Regions from separate parts of the Homo sapiens genome. Here regions 2 and 3 are each reported to be linked to region 1. The links are microRNA targets in miRTarBase. Many come from high-throughput screens and were not tested one by one. Region 1 holds a microRNA gene; each other region holds the end of a gene's coding sequence.
Evidence for each region. The annotated mature microRNA hsa-miR-383-3p reads ACAGCACUGCCUGGUCAGA and lies in region 1 at 782-800, opposite strand. An mRNA with a match to its seed (bases 2 to 7 or 8) in the 3' UTR can be bound and repressed. Matches are read on the target gene's strand: a 7mer-m8 pairs with bases 2 to 8, a 7mer-A1 pairs with bases 2 to 7 and ends in A, and an 8mer does both.

Region 2: miRTarBase lists PLD6 as a target of hsa-miR-383-3p. Seed matches in the 3' UTR shown: 7mer-m8 at 1,044-1,050, 7mer-m8 at 1,388-1,394 and 7mer-m8 at 1,863-1,869.
Region 3: the mRNA of AGTRAP is a reported target of hsa-miR-383-3p. The part of its 3' UTR that is shown has no 7-base or 8-base seed match.

Annotation. Positions count from the first base shown.
Region 1 is chr8:14,852,662-14,855,661 of GRCh38, forward strand. It overlaps MIR383 (microRNA 383), which reads right to left and starts at 849; the gene lies at 777-849. All of the region lies in intron 1 of SGCZ (sarcoglycan zeta), which reads right to left.
Region 2 is chr17:17,200,124-17,203,123 of GRCh38, reverse strand. It overlaps PLD6 (phospholipase D family member 6), which reads left to right. Exons shown (of 2, transcript NM_178836.4): 2 at 26-2,129. The coding sequence ends at 357. Among named protein-coding and RNA genes, the nearest start is that of PLD6, 4.7 kb to the left of the region's middle.
Region 3 is chr1:11,749,602-11,752,601 of GRCh38, reverse strand. It overlaps AGTRAP (angiotensin II receptor associated protein), which reads right to left. Exons shown (of 5, transcript NM_020350.5): 5 at 1,833-2,525. The coding sequence ends at 2,410. Among named protein-coding and RNA genes, the nearest start is that of C1orf167, 11 kb to the left of the region's middle.

The DNA.
Region 1 (3,000 bases):
TGTCTTTTCCATTTTTGTTCATATTTAGTTTTTGGCAACCACAGCTTGTATAATTACATTATGTTGGAGCAGGACCATATTAAGGAAACATTGCAAAGTACAAAAAATTTTCTTTGGCTCACCTCCCATCTGTAGTGTTTCATGGAGTAATAGCCTTTCTCTGCATCAAAGTCTTTCCTGGATTCCTGTGGTATTGTTCCCAGAATCTCCTCGTCTAAACTCTCCTGAAGCGTTAGCTCCTAAACACATATGTTACTATTTCTATGGGGCTTTTCCTTTACTAGGAATGGAAAACACTGTTGAGATGATCAGATATATACTGCTGATGAGGCAGCCACACTTACCAGCCAGAGGCCAGCTCTGCTTCTGAGGATACATAGAAAGTATATTCCAATAGCGGCCTTTGCATGTGTGCATTATAGCAGCATTCATATTTGAAGAAAGTCAAATTAAAGCATGCATATAAAACTTGTACTATTTGCAGTTTGAAGATTTTGCCCATGAATTTCAAATGTCTGCATGGAATCCCAAGTTATTTTCTCTTTATGGTATAAAAATGTTAAAGAGTGGGGAAGAGGAGGTAATGATCAAAATGCTCATGTGAGGAAACAACTAGGTATTTTATGAGAAAGACAAGCTTCCAAACACAGGTTAAACATGGCACTTTTCATCTCACCTGAAGCATGCTGGCCACTCCAGTCCACCAAATGCAGTTCCCTTGGGACCTACGCTGGATGGATACCCAAGGTCTCATGAGGTAAAGGCTAGGACACTTGCTCTTTCTGACCAGGCAGTGCTGTGGCTGATTAATATCCACCCAAAGCCACAATCACCTTCTGATCTGAGGAGCAGGTGACGGGGAGATTCTGAAGTCTCTTGATAAATTATGCAAACATAATCAAACAATACACATTGCAGGTTAAAAAAAAATTCAGTCACTGAAGTGGTTTGCTTTGTCCTTTAAAGAACTGAATCTAAATAGATTGTCATCAATCATTGGCAGTTCCTAGAATGACAACGCTGAGAAATTAGTATTACATGGGTACCATAGAAGAGCTATTTTCTTTCCTAGTGAAACGCTTGGGAAAGGAGAGAGGAAGGGAGAAAAATAAACAAGGCTTTTCTAACTACTGTTGGAATTTTCCTTTCTCTGTTCTTTCTTCAGATGAACCAGAAGACCAATTTAGTCCCAATATCCAATGCTTTCACATGACTACAGCTTATCCTAAGCCTTCCTTCCTCCTTGCCAATACAAAATACACACCTTTCAAGGATCTTTCAAGGCCTATATCAAAGGTCGAAATTTGCCTACTCCTAAGTCATTCATTTTGTAACGACATCAGTTTCTATGTGATTATATTATATATATATATATATATATATATATATATATATCCTTTTGTATATATATTCTAATTTTATATACTCTGTCTAAAGCTACAATATCTCCTTGCACAGAGTCACAAAATGTAAATTGAAATACATTATTGTTATTAGTTTGATTTTTGTGTTACCTCATCTTCACTATTTAGTAATCATCTTAAATGCAGTAACTTTTGACTTGTAAATGTTGGGCTTTTGACACAGAGTTGGTGTTAACAACATTATATGCAAAATGACTCACTTTACTATTTCATTCGCAATTCACAAAACAAAAAGTTAATTTGTATTCATTGAATAAGATAATACATAGACATATCAAAAATATATAATTTGTAGTTTATTTAGACTCAACATTGTTCCACAACATATCTAAAGCAGAAAGAAAAGATAAAAATATACACATTTATTTTTACAATAAATACTGTCAATAAGTTATCAACTAAATATTAAGGCACTTCTTAGATTAATAAAATTAATAAATTTCACATTGTGTAATATTGTTTTCATAATAGGAAGCCAGTGGTTTTCATTATTTTTCAATAGTCATCGTAGATATGATTATTGCAAATATAAGATATTTTGAATACATACAGTAATATAGTTTGGTGTTAAACAGTAGAGAGAAGAAGGATTTACTGGTCCTTCTGATTTCTTTTTTCACTTTTGTTGGATTATTTCAGGAATACCAGCAGGAATTAGTTTGCTATTATCATTTTATTTTCATAGAGAGGAAAGGAGAGAGTAGGTCAATTGGGATCAGTCTCCCAGGGCATATAAACCCGGCAGAGAGTGGCCCTCTTTAATCTCTGCTACCCTAGACATCAAAGGCTGCACTGCCACTATTCACAGAGATATGTCAGCATGTCCACAGGGGCCTGAACAATCATGCAGAGGTCCATGCTATGGCCTCTCTTGGGAAATCCCGCTCCCGACTTTATCTGGTATGCTCTCCCACCTCCCTCAAGATCTAACTTTGATGCAACTTCCTAGGCATCTCCATTATTTTATTTATTTATTTATTTATTTAGAGACGGAGTCTTGCTCTGTCACCCAACTGGAGTACAGTGGCACAATCTTGGCTCACTGCAACCTCTGCCTCCTGGGCTCAAGCGATTCTCATGCCTTAGTCTCCTGAGTAGCTGGGAATAAGGGATGCCAACATGTCCACCTAACTTTCGTATTTTTAGTTGAGACGGAATTTCACCATGTTGGCCAGGCTGGTTTTGAACTCCTGACCTCAAGTGATCCGCCTGCTTTGGCCTCACAAAGTGCTGGGATTTCAGGCGTGAGCCACTGTCCCCAGCCGGCATCTCCATTCTTGATCTGGGTATCAAGTCTCTGTACTTCGTGCTCACTATATACCTAGCCCATTCTGATTTATGCTTGCTATTCCCATGTCAAAACATTGCCCCATTTTACCCTCAACAGTGTCCATACTTGCAGGATAGATTATAGTCATGGGGTTCAGCTTAAAATCTGCCTTGACTAGAAGGTCAATTCTGGTTCTCTCATCTCTAGGCATCCCTTCTAGCCACCAAGTAGATTTTGTTTTCAACACAGACTGAGGCCAACTCTAAAAAGTTATCAAAAATACTTAAAGAAAACATATGGTCAAAT
Region 2 (3,000 bases), not on the chromosome of region 1:
TGAAATCACCTTGTCCTTTCTGCAGGGATCCAGGTCCGGCACGATCAAGACCCAGGCTACATGCATCACAAGTTTGCCATCGTGGACAAGAGGGTGCTCATCACTGGCTCGCTCAACTGGACCACGCAAGCCATCCAGAACAACAGGGAGAATGTTCTCATCACGGAGGACGACGAGTACGTGCGGCTTTTTCTGGAAGAATTTGAGCGCATCTGGGAACAGTTTAACCCTACAAAGTATACCTTTTTCCCACCAAAGAAAAGTCACGGAAGCTGTGCCCCACCTGTCTCCAGAGCTGGAGGGAGATTGCTTTCATGGCACAGAACTTGCGGCACCTCCAGCGAAAGCCAAACCTAACCAAGAATGGGGCTGAGCCCTCCCTGCGGGCTGCTGTGCGTTCTGAGGGAGGGAGACCTCGGCACTAGAAAAAAATCGTTAAACTAAAGTCTCGTCTATTAGAATACTAAATTGAACTAAAGAAGGTTAGGAAAGGGAAATTTCTGTTACTTCGGGTCAGTTATTTCGGGCCAGACCTTTTTCTTGCTCCTTTGCCAAAATAACTTCAGTCACGACCTGCCACGGGGTGCTTTCATGAGTGTGGTCCGTATCTTGGTTTGGAATCGAAACTTCTGCTACAGCACAGAAAAGGCACAGTGCCTCTTCCAGGTCGATCCCATTCCCTTCCCTGATTCTAGAAAAGTCCCTCCTGCTTTGGCTGATGTGGGCCCTTTCAGCATCTCCCTGAGATTTCATCCCTCTCTCCATGTGGCACGACTGGGGTTGGTTGGGGCCTACAGTCTCCTTGTCCCTCACAGTCTGCCCCTGTCAGGGCTCGGTCCTCAGAGTAAGGAAAGGAAATGGAAGTCAGGAGGAAGGGAAGATGTGAGTGTGCGGTGCGGGTGGCAAAAGCAGCCTTCGGGGCAACCCCGTGAGCGTCATTGCCACCAAAGGCTGGCTGTTCCCTTGATTCCTTGCATAATTGCTCTTTAAAACCAGTATGCACGCCAGTGCCAAGCTCTTCAGCAGCCTGTCCTTGGGTAGTAAGTGCTGTGGTCTGTCAGGACTGATGGCCAGCAGCTGTTTCTATGTTGGGCTTTTAACTTTTTTTATTTTATTTATTTATTTATTTATCTTTTTTGAGATGGAGTCTCACTCTGTGGCCCAGGCTGGAGTGCAGTGGCACAACCTCGGCTCACTGCATCCTCTGCCTCCTGGGTTCAAACGATTGTCCTGCCTCAGCCTCCCGAGTAGCTGGGATTACAGGTGCCTGCCACAACACCTGGCTGATTTTTTTTTTGGTATTTTTAGTAGAGACAGGGTTTCACCATGTTGGTTAGGCTGGTCTCAAACTCCTGACCTCAAGTGATCCACCACTTCCGCCTCCCAAAGTGCTGGGATTACAGGTGTGAGCCGCCATGCCCGGCCGGGCTTTTAACTTTTAATGTCCTAATGTTAAGGTAATTTTGTTGTGTGTTTAGAAGTGACCTTACCTTTAACACCTGTGGAGTTAGTGCGTGCACATTGCTGGCTCAGCGTAACCCATCACGGGACCGGAGGAGAGGAGAGCGGGGAAGAGGAGAGCAGCTTCAGGCCGTGGTGTCTCCCACGTCTGTGTTCTTATTTGCAGCTCAGGGTTTGCATTCCCAGGTAGAACAGGTGTCGTACACTGTGAAATGTTCCAGGTTATTTGTTTATAATGTGTGTGTCATATACAGATAGCTCCGATGACATCTGAAGTTGTGACTTCATCATCTTGTCATATTTCTGTATGATGAGCCCCAGGGCCCATCCTGAGGTCTGCTAGCCATGTGCTTAGTCTCACCTCCCCAGCCCACGCTGGCATTACCACCCAGAGACCCTTCAGTGCTGTGTGTTTTTCCTTTTTAGGGTTACTTTTGACTCACAGTGTTAGGCAAGCCAGCTTGGAAGTTAACTTTTAAAAAAATTCAATTGAAGCTGTAAAGTATAATATATAGATTGGAAGTCACCAGAAATTGTTTTAGTTTGTGAATTCCCCCAGTGTATGTTCTGAAAAGAAAATGGGAGAGCTTGTAAAGCATCTCCTAAATGCGAAGCCGCGTGACCCTGGACTTCTGGCACATCTGAATAAACATGTTCTTATTCTGGAATGTGAGCGCTGGGTGTCTTTGCCTTAGCTTGCTGCTAAATCATTCAAGTAGGGGCTCCTCTTTGTTAAATATAATTTTGCGGGGGGGGGCAGTATACAGCTATTTAGAAACTGTTGGTCAAAGAACAGGAGACTCAAAGAGGAGTAAAACTTTAAGCTGTTATTTGGGTGAAGGAAATAAGGTATACGGTGGTCCATTTTTAAGACAAAGTGCCTTGAATCGGCTTCGGTCAGCAAACTACGGAAGAAACGGGTTGTACTAGGCCCCTCAGGCTAGCCGATGCCTTATCGGCTTCCCCGCCTGCCCCCTTCCCCCTTCCTTGGTTGCCCTCACCCGAACCAAAAAAGTTTAAAATGAAAGTTTACTGGCCTGCAAAATAGCTCGCTTTGTCTCTTCCTACCAGCTGGCCTAGCTACTTAGGTCATAAGTCAAATACTTGAAGAGCCCCTAAGCAGACTAAGATTGCAATGCACTGTGGGCTGTAACAAAATGCAGCAAGACAACCCTAAAAAAAAAATACCTAAAGCCCCCGCCTAACAACCAATAAGCAATGTCTGGGAAGATTGTAACCCCATAGTACTCAGCCTGTAAGGAAGGAGCCTGCACACTGGGGGATAAATTGCTTGTTGAAACTGTGCTGGGTGTGCCTGCTCATCAGACACCCGATCTTGGAAGACGTTATTAAAAGTATAGAAGATCCTTGGCCCACACGTAAAGACTGCTGTGCCAGTAACAGGCAGGCATGCCCAGGAGACCCTAGAACTGCACGCCGGCCTCTGCTCCAACACCTGAGGCGAGTGATGCTAGAAGGCAGGGGCTCGCTGAAGATGAGGGCTGGGGAGGGGGTTGTGTAGTGTGTGTGTCACCTGAA
Region 3 (3,000 bases), not on the chromosome of region 1:
CACCGTTTCTGTCTGCCTCTGATGGCCCTCCGGCTCCCGACTGCCTGCACAGTCGGGGGGTGGCACAGTGCCTGCAAATCTAAGCCACCCTCTCCCACTCCCTGAGCAGCTCCTAGCCAATGACTGGAAAGCCTGGCACCCTTGCTTTCATCGCAGGCTCTGCTTCTGGGGTACACTCTGAGACAGGAGCTTTCCTCTGTCCTCTCCCGCAAAGAGCCGGTTCAACCTGGGGGTCTGGGACGATGAGGGACTGAGGTGTCTAGATACACTCCCCTGTGCGTGGCCCAGGCTGCATCATCTGCCCCCACTGCCTGGGCCAAGCCCCTGCCCTGGCTTTTCATTCCCTTTGGGAATCTGACACGTTCACGACGCAGGTACACAAGCCTTCCCGGGGCCAGGATGCTGTATACACAAGATAAACGGACTTGGGTCTTAGTCCCATTCCCCTCGGGTCACGCTCCTCCTCCACCCAGGGTGGCTACAGTCATGAACCTGACAGGTGTCCTTCTAGTCCATGCTTTTCTATTTTACCGCACATACACCCAGGAACAACATATGGCATTGCTGTGAGGTCTGAAAATTCATCCCAATGCCATTCTGCAATCTGCTTTGTTCACATTTGCGGGGGGCCAACGTTGGTGGAAATAGGTCTGGTTTAACAGCTGTAACTGCTGCACTGTGCTCCATACGATGAATGGACCGTGGCTTACTGGTCCGTACTCCCTATAATGAATGGACCGTGGCTTACTGGTCCATACTCCCTACAATGAATGGACTGTGGCTTCCTGGTCCATACTCCCTACAATGAATAGACTGTGGCTTCCTGGTCCATACTCCCTACAATGAATAGACTGTGGCTTCCTGGTCCATACTCCCTGTAATGAATGGACCGTGGCTTACTGGTCCGTCTCCCGACAGTGAGGCTGTTTCCAGTTTCTCACAACTGCAGCTGCTCAGCAGCCCTCTGCCCGGAGCACAGCCCCTTCCCCACAGCAGCCTTCCTCCCTGACCCAGAGGCCCATGTCCTCTTCTTTCGGGGCTCTTGCCTCTGTCTGTAATCCTCCAGGTGGGAAGACTCCTAGGTTGAGAGCAGGCTCCCAAGGTCACCACTGCAGCCCCAAGCCCGCTCGGCACCAGGCAGGTACTGAGCCTCTTTTGATTGACAGATGGACGCAAGAGAATAATGGGAGTTGTGCACTAGGCCTTGACCCTGTGCCAGGGACAAGCCAGGATGGCCTGGGAAAGCCCTGGCACTTGGTGCCCAGGGGGCAGAAGAGCAAGCTGTGAATAGCTAGACCTGTCCGTGGGGTGGGCCGAGGCCCTGGGGAACTTCTGGACGTGTCAGCCCAAGTCAGCTGTGACCAGACACAGGGGCTACCAGGAAGAGGTCGCCCCTGCCTCCTAACCTAGCATCGTCACTGGCCTGAGGAGCAGGTCCACTGCTAACAAGTTCACCATCACTTAGGGAGCCCTCCTCACGCCAGGCACTTCACACCTGGAGCAGGCACCAACCCTTTCTAGAAGACACTGAAGGCATGCAGCTAGTAAGTGGCAGAGCAGGATTCCAAAGAGTGCCTGGGTCATCTGGTTCAGAGAAACGGATGCCCACGCACCACACCCACCAGTGTCTCTCTCTCCTGTGGCCTCTGCTAGGCCAGAGCCAGGCTCAAGCCCAGCTCAGCCAACGCACATGCCTGTTTCCTCCTGCCATGACAGAATGGGGCAGCACAGCACAGGCTCCACCTGGGAACTGGCAGGAGACATCTTCCCAGGAACAAGGCCAGGCCCCAGCCCAGCCAGGAGATTGAAGGTGGTTCAAAACACAGCCCATCTACAGAATTCCCCAAACTTTAATGCTGTGCTCTGAAAAGGGAGGCTGGAGGTTGTGGTGGGACACAGTGTTGCTGACACCTCTGGCCTCCAGCCCTGCATCCCTAGGCACCATGTGACCAGGCAGTGAGAAGGACGGGGCCTCACTCCCATGCCAGACTGCTCCTCGGGCTGAGCAGGACCTGAAGCTCTCAGGGCTTCCACCAAAGCCCAGCAAACTTGGGGGAGGCCTGAGGGGGCATCAGCAGTCCTTAAAGGCCTGAGCTTGCAACACTCAGGCAGGACTCGGCTGAGGGCCTCTGTGGTGCCACCATGGGGTAGGAGGTAAAGAGAGACCCTGGTTCCAGCCTGGGAACCAGTGGGTGCCCTGAAGGGAGGGGAGGCCTCAGGGAGTTCGGGACAGGAGTGTGCATGGTACTGGGCGGCCCATGGGGGCTCCTGGCCTCTTGGTTCAGGCAATCCCTGAGCTGGGGACACATTCCATCTTAGGTCCAAGAGACGGAGGTCAGGAGCATCCCTAGAACGACCTCCCAGGCACGAGGAAGGCCCGGGGCAGGGCCGGGCGCAGCGTGGCTGGCTTCAGTACCCTCGGGCATCTTGACTCCTGCCCTCTGGGACTGCAAAGGGATCTGCGGGCGCCTCTGCTGAGTCAATCGTCTGGTAGGCACTACGGTCCTGAGAAGACCCAAGGAAACCTAGGTGACAGGGGACATGGTGGGAAAGAAAAATGAAGGGTGAGAACTCGGGATGTTCAGCTGAGTCCAACCCAAGATCCACCCCCGCCACCCTCGGGCTGGGCATCCTGACACCATGCACAGAGACAGAGGCAGCAGCCCCAGGCCCTAAACCTTTAGCGTGTATTATTCATTCAATCCTGCCGTATCCCTGTGCGACGGGTATTTTTATTGTCCCCACTTTACAGATGAGGAGACTGTGGGTCAAAGGGATGAAGTGACTTGCCCGAGATCACACAGCTCAAAGCTGATGATGCTGGGACCCACGCCTAGGCAGCCGAGTCCAAAGCCAGGCTCCTGGCCCCTGTGCCATGGGCTTCCCCAGGCAGCACGTGCTTAGGAACCTGGGCAGAGGGACATCAGCCCCGGGCCCACGCACTCCTCTCCAGCTCCCCTCCCAGGTACAAGGACACCACATTACCATATCCAGATGGCC